Homo sapiens: one gene and its partners. The main gene of each other region encodes a partner of the protein of the gene in region 3 in a complex. Each region holds a gene or a part of one and is shown on either strand. Other genes may lie near its edges. The genes, in order: MED12, MED25 and MED24.

The links.
Region 1: MED24 (region 3) and MED12 share a complex: the UniProt entries of both Homo sapiens proteins name them as parts of the mediator complex.
Region 2: MED24 (region 3) and MED25 share a complex: the UniProt entries of both Homo sapiens proteins name them as parts of the mediator complex.

What each region holds. Positions count from the first base shown.
Region 1 is NC_000023.11:71,139,035-71,142,681, forward strand, and holds the end of MED12 (mediator of RNA polymerase II transcription subunit 12), read left to right. Parts: intron 1-1,600; coding exon 1,601-1,823; coding exon of another isoform or gene 1,824-1,934; exon of another isoform or gene 1,935-2,195; coding exon 2,196-2,336; intron 2,337-2,848; coding exon 2,849-2,930; intron 2,931-3,140; coding exon 3,141-3,184; 3' UTR 3,185-3,416; downstream 3,417-3,647. UniProt on the Homo sapiens protein: Component of the Mediator complex, a coactivator involved in the regulated transcription of nearly all RNA polymerase II-dependent genes.
Region 2 is NC_000019.10:49,821,235-49,824,881, reverse strand, and holds part of MED25 (mediator of RNA polymerase II transcription subunit 25), read right to left. Parts: intron 1-3,647. UniProt on the Homo sapiens protein: Component of the Mediator complex, a coactivator involved in the regulated transcription of nearly all RNA polymerase II-dependent genes.
Region 3 is NC_000017.11:40,030,270-40,033,916, forward strand, and holds part of MED24 (mediator of RNA polymerase II transcription subunit 24), read right to left. Parts: intron 3,188-3,647; coding exon 3,076-3,187; intron 2,938-3,075; coding exon 2,787-2,937; intron 2,494-2,786; coding exon 2,380-2,493; intron 1,822-2,379; coding exon 1,774-1,821; intron 1,352-1,773; coding exon 1,269-1,351; intron 977-1,268; coding exon 890-976; intron 1-889. UniProt on the Homo sapiens protein: Component of the Mediator complex, a coactivator involved in the regulated transcription of nearly all RNA polymerase II-dependent genes.

The DNA of each region.
Region 1 (3,647 bases), on a different chromosome or scaffold from region 3:
AGAAAGATAGCAAAAAAAACCCCCACGATACATAGTTCCTCACTACAAAGAATCTTTACTATAGCTGGGGAGATGAGACTTATAGAAGAATATTGAGAGAACACTCTGAGCAAAGATATAATCAGGTATGCAGTTGTATGCTATGAGGTAAAATGTGGATTGAGAAAAAGTACGTGGTAATATCTGTGGGCCTGACTCATCAGAGAATGTTTCATGAAGGAGGTCAGACTTGAGTTGGCCTCTGAAGAATAGCTGTGATTGGGATTTGTGGAGAAGAGGAAAAGAAAGGGCATTCCAGGTAGAGGATGTAACGTGAACAAAGACATGGGGACCAGAATGAGGATGGTGCCTGGGGAGAAGGGCCTGGATGGAGTGTAAAATCTGTGCTGGGGAAGTCACTGGGGCTAGGCTAGGAGGGGGCAGGCTGAGAGATGGCCTTGAATGCTCAGCCGAAGAATTGAGACGCAGTCCCAGAAAGGGCTCTTTTGATCAGAAGAGTGATAGGAGGAGTTGGGTATGTTGCAAGGTTCCTTGGAATGAATGGATAGGATGTGTACTGGAAGGTGCAAGAAGAAGACTTCAGGCCAGGCACGGTGGCTCATGCCTGTAATCCCAGTACTTTGGGAGGCCCAGGCAGGCAGATCACCTAAGATCAGGAGTTCGAGACCAGCCTGGTCAACATGGTGAAATCCCGTCTCTACTAAAAATACAAAAATTATCTGGGTGTGGTGGCATGTGCCTGTAATCCCAGCTACTTGGGGGGCTGAGGCAAGAGAATCACTTGAACCTGAGAGGTGGAGGTTGCAGTGAGCCGAGATCGCATCATTGCACTCCAGCCTGGGCAACAGAGTGAGACTCTGTCTCAAAAAAAAAAGAAGACTTGAGACGGGGAGCCTGGCCAGTAGACTCTTGAAGTGATATACACATGTGGTAGAACAACTTGAAATGTTATTTGGGAACAACAACAGCAACAGCAAAAAACCTCAATGAGTGTTTATAGAATGCCTATCTTGTGCTAAGACTATTTTTTTCTTTTCTTTTCTTTCTTTTTTTTTTTTTTTTTGAGATGGAGTCTCGCTCTGTCATCCAGGCTGGAGTGCAGTGGTGCAATCTTGGCTCACTGCAACTTCCACCTCCCAGGTTCAAGCAATTCTCCTGCCTCAGCCTCCTGAGTAGCTGGGATTACAGGCATCCACTACCACGCTCAGCTATTTTTTTTTGTATTTTTGCTAGAGATGGGGTTTCACCATGTTGCCAGGCTGGTCTAGAACTCCTGACCTCAAGTGATCCACCCACCTTAGCCTCCCAAAGTGCTGGGATTACAGGTGTGAGCCACCGCACCCAGCCCTATTTTTCATTTTTGTAACAGAAAAATAGCTAATGCAGAATTGAAAAATTCCTAACCATTAAGGTTATGAGACACTAAAATAGAGTATCATCTTATGCAACTTATTCCCCAGACTGGAAGTCTGGTTAGTGACACGAGGAATGAATGAAATAACCTGCTAACGTTTCTTTCAGGTCAGGGACCCAAGGTTTATACTGACCCCCTCTCCTCACCTCCCTCATGCCTTGACCTCTGACCCTCTTATCTTTGGAGGTTTTCACACCAGACACTGCAGCAGACACCCATGATAAGTACCATGACTCCAATGAGTGCCCAGGGCGTCCAGGCAGGCGTCCGTTCAACAGCCATCCTACCTGAGCAGCAGCAGCAGCAGCAACAGCAGCAACAGCAACAGCAGCAGCAGCAGCAACAGCAACAGCAGCAGCAGCAGCAGCAGTACCACATCCGGCAGCAGCAGCAGCAGCAGATCCTGCGGGTAAGGCACTGGGATTTCATCTGGGACCTGGGAGCCCAGGGAGGAAGAGAGGCACAAGTTCTTCCCACACAGTTACCGAGACTAAACAAGGCAGTGTACCAAAACACCTAGCAGAGCGGCTGGCCTCTAGTGGTGCTGGAGAAGTTTTCTACCCTCCCCCTTTTTGTTTTCTGGGGATCATAGTGGGAGAGAGTTGGACATTGTCTGCTGGGTACCCTAGATTTGGTTTCTTTCTGTGCAGCTGTCTAAAAAGGGAAGGCAGTAGACCCCGAGCTCCCACCCTGCTTCCTCATCCCCTGCCCTCAGCCCTTTAGTTCTGAGGCTTAGCTTCCTCCCTCTGCTCCTTCTGAAGTATCTTTTGTGTTCTTATAGCAGCAGCAGCAACAGCAACAGCAGCAGCAGCAGCAGCAGCAACAGCAACAGCAGCAGCAGCAACAGCAACAACAGCAACACCAGCAGCAACAGCAGCAACAGGCGGCTCCTCCCCAACCCCAGCCCCAGTCCCAGCCCCAGGTAGCTGCTGGACTACAGCCCCAGGCTCAGGGACAGCTGCCCAGGTTGGGCACGCAGCCAGTGAACTGGGTTGGGGACAGTATGGAATAGGGTAGAGGTGGGAGGCAGGGCATGGCACCCTAAAAATGGATTGGGAGGCCAGGCGCAGTGGCTCACGCCTGTAATCCCAGCACTTTGGGAGGCCAAGGCAGGTGGATCACTTGAGGTCAGGAGTTCAAGACCAGCCTGGCCAAGATGGTGAAACCCCGTCTCTACTAAAAATACAAAAAATAATAATAATAAATAAGCCGGGCATGGTGGCAGGTGCCTGTTATCTCAGCTACTCAAGAGGCTGAGGCAGAGAATTGCTTGAACTTGGGAGGCAGAGGTTGCAGTGAGCCAAGATCATGCCACTGCACTCCAGCCTGGGGGACAGAGCGAGACTCCATCTCAAAAAAAAAAACGGATTGGGAAAGGAGGTTGAAGAAGGAGAAAAGTTCGACTTCAGTCTTCCACTTCCTATTTCCACCCAGTTCCAGCGCCAGGGGCTTCAGCAGACCCAGCAGCAGCAACAGACAGCAGCTTTGGTCCGGCAACTTCAACAACAGCTCTCTAGTAAGCCTGCCTGCCTTCCCAAGGAGAACCCCATGGAATAAATTTAGGGGGCGGGGTGGGCCAAAGTAGCTGAAACGATAGCTTCAGGCCCAGGTTATGAGAGGAGGCATTCCATTCCATCCCCTTCCCTCGATACCTGAACAGCTTTCCTCGTGCATACCCACACCCCTGCCTGGTCTTCCATCCCTGATAATCTCTGGTTTTTCACAGATACCCAGCCACAGCCCAGTACCAACATATTTGGACGCTACTGAGCCACCTGGAGGAACTGCTTGTGCACTGGATGTGGCCCCACCCTTTCCTCTTAATTCCCAATCCCATTCCTGGGCTAGCACCAGTAGTGGTTGGGGCCCTCCCCTCAGGCTCCATTTTTAATAAGTTTTTAGTATTTTTGTTAATGTGAGGCATTGAGCTGTTGGGTTTTGTATATTATTTATATAGAGACCCCAGAGCTGTTGCACCCAATACACAGAGCTTCTTTGCAAAGGGAGTGTGCGAGTTCTGCATGTCTGGGAAGGGTGGTCTCTTGGGAGAATGCAGGGGGTTGGACCAACAAGTCAGAGTCTTCATTCTATTCTGATCATCTCCCCTGTTTACCTTACACTCTAAAATTTCTTTTTTTCTTTTTTTTTGAGACGGAGTCTTGCTCTGTCGCCCAGGCTGGAGTGCAGTGGCGCGATCTCGGCTCACTGCAACCTCTGCCTCCCGGGTTCCAGC
Region 2 (3,647 bases), on a different chromosome or scaffold from region 3:
ATCGGCTAACAGGTGCCTGGAGCCCCAGGAGGTCAAAATGAGTGAATGTTAACAGCATCCGGCCATGACCAAGGGCTCCCTACACACGGCCTGTCACCCAGGCAAACTAGTTCCATGAGGGCCAGGACCTTGCCTATCTCATGCCCACTAACTCCTTGGTGCCCAGGACGATTTGTTCCACAAACATTTGTTGAATTAATGAGTGAACATATGAATGAACAACTGAGTTGTCATAATGTTATGGGAAACACACTGGGTCTATTTTCCTTCCACCTCTTTTTTTTTTTTTTTTTTCCCGAGACAGGGTCTCGCTCTTTCACCCAGGCTGGAGTGCGGTGGCACAATCTCGGCTCACTGCAACCTCTGCCTCCCAGTCTCAGTTGATCCTCCTACCTCAGCCTCCTGAGTAGCTGGGACTACAGGTGTGCACCACCATGCCTGGTTAATTTTTTCTATTTATTTGTTGTTTTTGTATTACATACTAATTCATTTATTCAGCCAGTCTCCTGAAGCCCCGTGGGTGCCAAGCCCCAGCTGGAAGCAAATGGCAGAAGCACCCAGGGACCTGGACATTCACAGTCCAGAGGTGTGGGGCTGTGACAGGTCATGGAGGCAGAGGAGGAAGCATCTGGCTGCAAGAATCGGGAAGGTTTCCCAGGGTATAAGACACCTGAGCTGGGTCTGGAAGGCTATGCAGTGTCTTCCAGGGTGGTTAGTATTAAATGCATTCTGGACATTCATTCTACAGAATTTACCCGAGGCCTCCTGTGTACCAGGCCCTGTGCTGGCTGCCAGGCACTTGAGGAGCATCAGACTTGGACCTGGGCCTCAAGAAGTCTCCATTTAACATCACTCAAGACTGTCTTACCGGTCTCTCCCAGTGGTCTCAAATGGAATACATTTTGCGCCCCCTTCCCAGAGGATATTTTATAATGCCTGGAGACATTTTTGGTTGTCACACCTTTGGGAGGGGGCTACCGGCATCTAGTGAGTAGAGGCCAAGGATGATGTTAAACATCCTACAATACCCAGGACGGCCCCCACTACAAGGAATGACTGTGTCCACAGTGTCACTAGGGCCAAGGATGAGAAACCCTGCTCTGTGTTACCTACGAATTCCAGCTACCGCGAAGGGGAAGCTTCTGTGTCACCTTTTCACTATATGTCCTGCACCCAGCACTTGCACGCACATACTGGAACAAAGCAGATACTCAACAAACACCTGCTGCAGAAGCATACAGAGGTAACGGCCGCTACGAACAGGTGTTGTTTAATGAACCTTGACTGCAGACCAGGCCCTAAGCGACACACAGCAAGCAACTTAGCTCCTGTGATCTTCTAACAACACGGAGATACACGCGACCATTATCCATTTGCAAACCAGGAGAGTGAGGCACAAAATCCTAGGAAACACTTACACGGCACTTAATACATGCCAGGCACTGTATTAAACATCATCAACTAACTTAATTCTCCAAACATCGCTGTGAGGTTGCGGTACCCAGCCCCCAATACAGCACCCAGCAATCCAGCCTCTTGCTATTTACACACTGGGTAGTCTCCTCCTACACTGAACGGGATAGGCTTATACTGCACACCAAATGCAGTATGGCAGAAGTGGACTTGGCACCGCAGCTCAGGCCTGTGATCTCAGCACTCCAGCACTTAGGGAGGTCAAGGCAGGAGGATCGCTTGAGGCCAGGAGTTCAAGACCAGTCTGAGCAACACAGCAAGACCTCATCTCTACAAGAATTAAAATAAAGAAATCAGCCATGCATGGTGGTGCCCACCTGCAGTCCTAGGTACTCAGGAGGCTGAGGTGGGAGGATCACTTGAGCCCGAGAGGTCGAGGCTGCAGCAAGCTATGATCCCACCACTGCACTCCAATCTGGGCAACAGAGCAAGACCCTGTCTCAGGTTAAAAAACAGAATGTAGGCCAGGCGCGGTGGCTCACGCCTGTAATCCCAGCACTTTGGGAGGCCGAGGCGGGTGGATCACAAGGTCAGGAGACCGAGACCATCCCGGCTAACACAGTGAAACCCTGTCTCTACTAAAAATACAAAAAATTAGCTGGGTGTGGTGGCGGGCACCTGTAGTCCCAGCTACTCAGGAGGCTGAGGCAGGAGAATGGCGTGAACTCGGGAGGCGGAGCTTGCAGTGAGCTGAGATCGCACCACTGCACTTCAGCCTGGACAACAGAGCGAGACTCTGTCTCAAAAAAAAAAAAAAAAAAAAAAAAAGAATGTAACAGAAATAATGACATGACGTGTAACTTCCAAGACTTGATTACAAAGAGCCTAGTGGGGCCTCTGGGTGCAGCATCTCATGCCTCTAATCCCAGCACTTAGGGACACTGAAGTGGAGGATCACTTGAGACCAGGAGTTCAAAACCAGCCTGGGCAACATTGCAGGACCTTGTCTCCACAAAAAAAACAATTTTTTTTTGAGACAGGGTCTCAGTCAGTCAGTCACCCAAGCTGGAGCGCAGTGGTGCGATCTCTCCACCTCCTGGCTTGAAGTGATTCTCCTGCCTCAGCCTCCTGAGTAGCTAGGATTACAAGGCACATGCCACCACACCTGATTAATTTTTGTATGGTTTTTTTTTTTTTTTTTTTTTTGAGACAGAGTCTTGCTCTGTTGCCCAGGCTGGAGTGCAGTGGTGCAATCTTGGCTCACTGCAAACTCCGCCTCCTGGGTTCACGCCATTCTCCTGCCTCAGCCTCCCGAGTAGCTGGGACTGCAGGTGCCTGCCACCGCGCCCGGTTAAATTTTTGTATTTTTAGTAGAGACGGGGTTTCACCGTGTTAGCCAGGATGGTCTCCATCTCCTGACCTCATCATCCACCCGCCTCAGCCTCCCAAAGTGCTGGGATTACAGGCGTGAGCCACCACGCCTGCCCAATTTTTGTATTTTTTGTAGAGACGGGGTTTCACCATGTTGGCCAGGCTGGTCTCGAACTCCTGACCTCAGGTGATTCGCCCGCCTTGGCCTCCCAAAGTGCTGGGATTACAGGGATGAGCCACCGTGCCCCGCCACTACAAAATTTTTTTTTTTTTTTTTTTTTGAGACAGAATTTCACTCTTGTTGCCCAGGCTGGAGTGCAATGGTGTGATCTCGGCTCACTGCAACCTCCACCTCCCAGGTTCAAGCAATTCTCCTGCCTCAGCCTCCCAAGAGCTGGGATTACAGGCATGCGCCACCATGCCCAGCTAAGGCCTGTAATTTCAGCACTCCAGCACTTAGGGAGGTCAAGGCAGGATGATTGCTTGTATTTTTAGTAGAGGCAGGGTTTCACCATGTTGGACAGGCTGGTCTCGAACTCCTGACCTCAGGTGATCCACCTGCCCCAGCCTCCCAAAGTGCTGGGATTACAGGCGTGAGCCACCACGCCCGACCTACAAAAATATTTTTAAGAAATCAGCCAGGTGTGCTGGCATTTGGCTACCGTCCCTGCTACTCCAGCTACTCGGGAAGCTGAGATGGGAGGATCGCTTGAGCTTGAGCCCAGGAGGTCGAGGCTGCAGTGAGCCGTGACTGAGCCACTGCACTCCAGCCTGCGTGACAGAGTGAGACCCTTCCTCAAAAACAAGAGAGGCCTGGGGCTTCCTCTTTGCTCTCTCTATTGGGTCCCTCAATCTGAGGAATG
Region 3 (3,647 bases):
GAGCCAGCACACCTGGCAATTTATCATTAGTCTTTTTTTTTTTTGAGACAGAGTCTCGCTCTGTCACCCAGGCTGGAATGCAGTGGCGCGATCTCAGCTCAGTACAACCTCTGCTTTCCGGGTTCAAGTGATTCTCCTGCCTCAGCCTCCTGAGTAGCTGGAATTACAGGTGCATACCATCGCGCCTGATTAATTTTTGTATTTTTAGTAGAGATGGGGTTTCACCACGTTGGCCAGGCTGGTCTCAAACTCCTGACCTCGTGATCCACCCGCCTTGGCCTCCCAAATGCTGGGATTACAGGTGTGAGCCACCGCAGCCGGCCTATCATTAGTCTTAAATGCTCTGAAAGCACATTTAAGATTAAAGGAAGATTCAGGATTTTTATTTATTTATTTATTTTTTTTTTGAGACAAGGTCTCACTCTATCGCCCAGGCTGGGGTGCAGTGGCATGATTTCGCCTCACCACAATCTCCGCCTCCTGGGTTCAAGCAATTCTCGTGCCTCAGCCTCCAGAGTAGCTGAGATTACAGGCACACACCACCACGCCCAGCTGATTTTTGTATTTTTAGTAGACATGGGGTTTTGCCATGTTGGGCAGGCTGGTCTTGAACTCCTGGCCTCCAAGTAATCCACCCGCCTCCAGCCTAGGATTTTTACTTTTATCACAAAGATGGGTATGAGTTAAAGAGCAGTGACTAAGAGTGTAAAACTCTGGTCTGAAGACATCTGTGCTTTCTTTTCCTTCCTGTTCCCTGTACCCCCAGGCACGGTCCCAGTCACTTGCAGCCCAAACTTTCGACAGGAGGTTGAAAGGCACGCAGCAGCCCCACCGTAACAAGAGAGAGGTCAAGGGGCTCTTGGGGTAGCACAGGTGCGTTCACACTTACCGCTTAGCCATAAGGTTGTTGACGCTGGCCTCAGACAGAAGCCCCTGCTTGCCACATTCTTGGAGCAGGAAGTTTGTACAGTCACAGCTGTGAGGGAGAAAGATGCTGAGGGAACTGGGCACCTGGATAGGATGGTGAGGGGTGGGAGTGGCAGGTCCCTGAGCAGCATCCTCCCTCTTTCAGGATGAGGAAAATCTGGAGTGCCTGAGGGACGGTAGAGGGGCTCTGGGGACTTGGCAACTGTGGGCTCCTATTTCCTGCCCCTGCCAAGGGGAGTGAACAAGGAGACAGAGTCCCCTGAGGCTTCTCTGGCACAGAGATCAGGGGAAGAGCCCAGAACGCCTTCCAGTAGGGCGGGGGTGACCAGGGGAGCTCATACTTGCAGCGCTGGTCAGCTTTGTCCAACAAGGGGGTGAGCTTCAGCAGGAACTCAAAAGCACAGTTGACATCCTCAGTGAAGTCCTAGAAAGAGGCAGAAGTGTCCATCTGGTTTCCAGGGCCACCAGGCCCTGATCATCTCAGGCAACCTTGTCTGCTGGAGGCATCGGCCTGAGTTGCCTGGCTGCTTTCTGCCTGGAGCCTGGGTGTATGTTGTGGGTGCACGCAGACGCTGAAGCACACACACTGGCTGAAGCACACGTACACGCTGAAGCACACACACGCTGAAACACACACACTGAAGCACGCACACACTGAAGCACACGCACATGCTGAAGCACACGCACATGCTGAAGCATGCACATTGTGAAGCACGTGCACGCTGAGGTGTACACTCACATCCGGCTCTCTTCCAGGCATGAGAACACTGCCCAGCTGGGGCCTGAAGGACCCTCCCCTTTGCCCTTATTTCTGCTCCCATGCCTCCATCTCAATCCCCAACTCACCTTGTCTCCATGAGAGTACTTCTTCAACTTCACCAAAACCTGTGGAATCTAGGGGGTGAGGCAGGGGGAAAAACAGGAAGATCCATTTCTTTTCTCTTTCATCTACCCCTGAAGGCATCCCCCCGAACCCCTGCTCCAGGAAGAGAGACAGGAACACTCCTACCCTGGGAGTGAGAGCACACTTAGTGCTAAATGAGAAAGCCAATAGGTGCCCAGGCCCCTGATGCCCCCAGGCCTAGGCACAGGACACAAGCACCCTGCACCTCCGCTAGCTCAACAGAAAAAGATGCCATAAGCAAAAGTGGATCCCCAGCTTCAAGGAGGACTGGGGCCCCTTTCCCTGGCTCCCTTTACTGCCCTGCACCTATCTGTCTGATGACCAAGCTAAACTGCACCTCTGTGGTAAGAAACAACGGAGTCTGCCAAATGGGCTAAATATAGCCCTGGCACTTTCAGAGAAAATGATCAATGGGAACTTGCACTGGAATACCTGGCAGGCTGGGCCCAGTGCCCGCAGGGAGGAACACAGGGCAAAGGTCCAGGGTGCCACTGGTCTTGCTAAGAACCATTCCTAGACTGGCTCTGCCCCTCCCACGTCCCCAGTACCTTGAGGAAAGTGAAAGCTGTCCACTTGAGCTCCTCCGTACCCTCGGGAGACTCAATGAGCCCCACGAAGCAAGCTTTCCAGATCTCCAGGACAAAAAGTGGGGTGGGGATATGCTGTGGGAAGAGCCAAGGATGAGGCCTAAGAGGGTGCCCATACCCCGTCACCCTTCTGTGGACTCTGAGGATTTGGCTGGGTCAGAGACTGCATGGCAGAGTCACTGCTCAGCTATGTGCTGAGAACCAGGGGAGTAAGGTCCAATGACAGAAGTGTGCACGACTGGCACCCACTTTCCATCATGGAGCAGGAGAAACCCCACTTCTCCCAGGGAGAACCAGAAGAATCCTCCCTCCTGCCCCCAACAGGCTGGCCTGCCTTGGAGAAGGGAGAGCCACTCGGCCCCTCCCACCTGCATGCGCTTCACCATCGTCAGCTGCTCCACCAGGGACTGCGTCTCGCCTGTCAGGTTCATGGTGCCCTCGAGCAGGATCACGGCGTGGACAGTGGGGAAGCCGGTCTTGTGCATCTGCTCCGCATGCACAGACAGCATCGTGGGGATGCTGAGGGGTCACAAACACAGGGGACGGTGTTTGGGGGGCCAAAGGTGAAGGCGGAGAGGATGGCACGGGTGCCACATCTTCCTACCCCAGGGCGTGTCCTCCCTCTCCCTTCTCCACCATCCCCCAGGGAGCCGGTACCTCCTAATGAGGGTGCCACACTGCTCGGCCTGACTCCGGAGCTGCGGGTTGCTGAGATTGGCCAGGATCTCTCCAAGTTTCAAGAGAGAATGCTCGATGGCAGTCCAAGAAGCTGGCAGAGGGAAGGAAGTACAGAAACATGATGGGAAACAGGAGAGAAGGAGCACCTGGCCCTGAACTCCTCGATTTTGGCACTCCCTCCGGCACACGAAACCACACAGGAAGGCTTCCCCTGAGGACAACAGGGAGGGAGGGGCCTGAGGGCAGCATGCACTGTTTCCAGAAGGGGGGTGGGCACCTAGAGCTGGAAACCCCAGAGACCATTCCCAAAAGCCTGATTTCCAGGGGACACAGCCAGCTGACTTCAGAAGGTATGGCATCACACAGGCTCAGGAGAGAGAGGCAGAGGGAGGCCAGAATCCAGTGGCTGGAACAGGGAGGGCGGCCACAAATCACTCGAGGAGTGAGCGGATCCCAAAGTCCAGTCTTGCAGAGGCTGTCACTCTCCTCTGGGGGAACTGGGTCCCTAAATGGCTTTCTCATTCTCAACCACTCCCTCATCTAGGCATTGC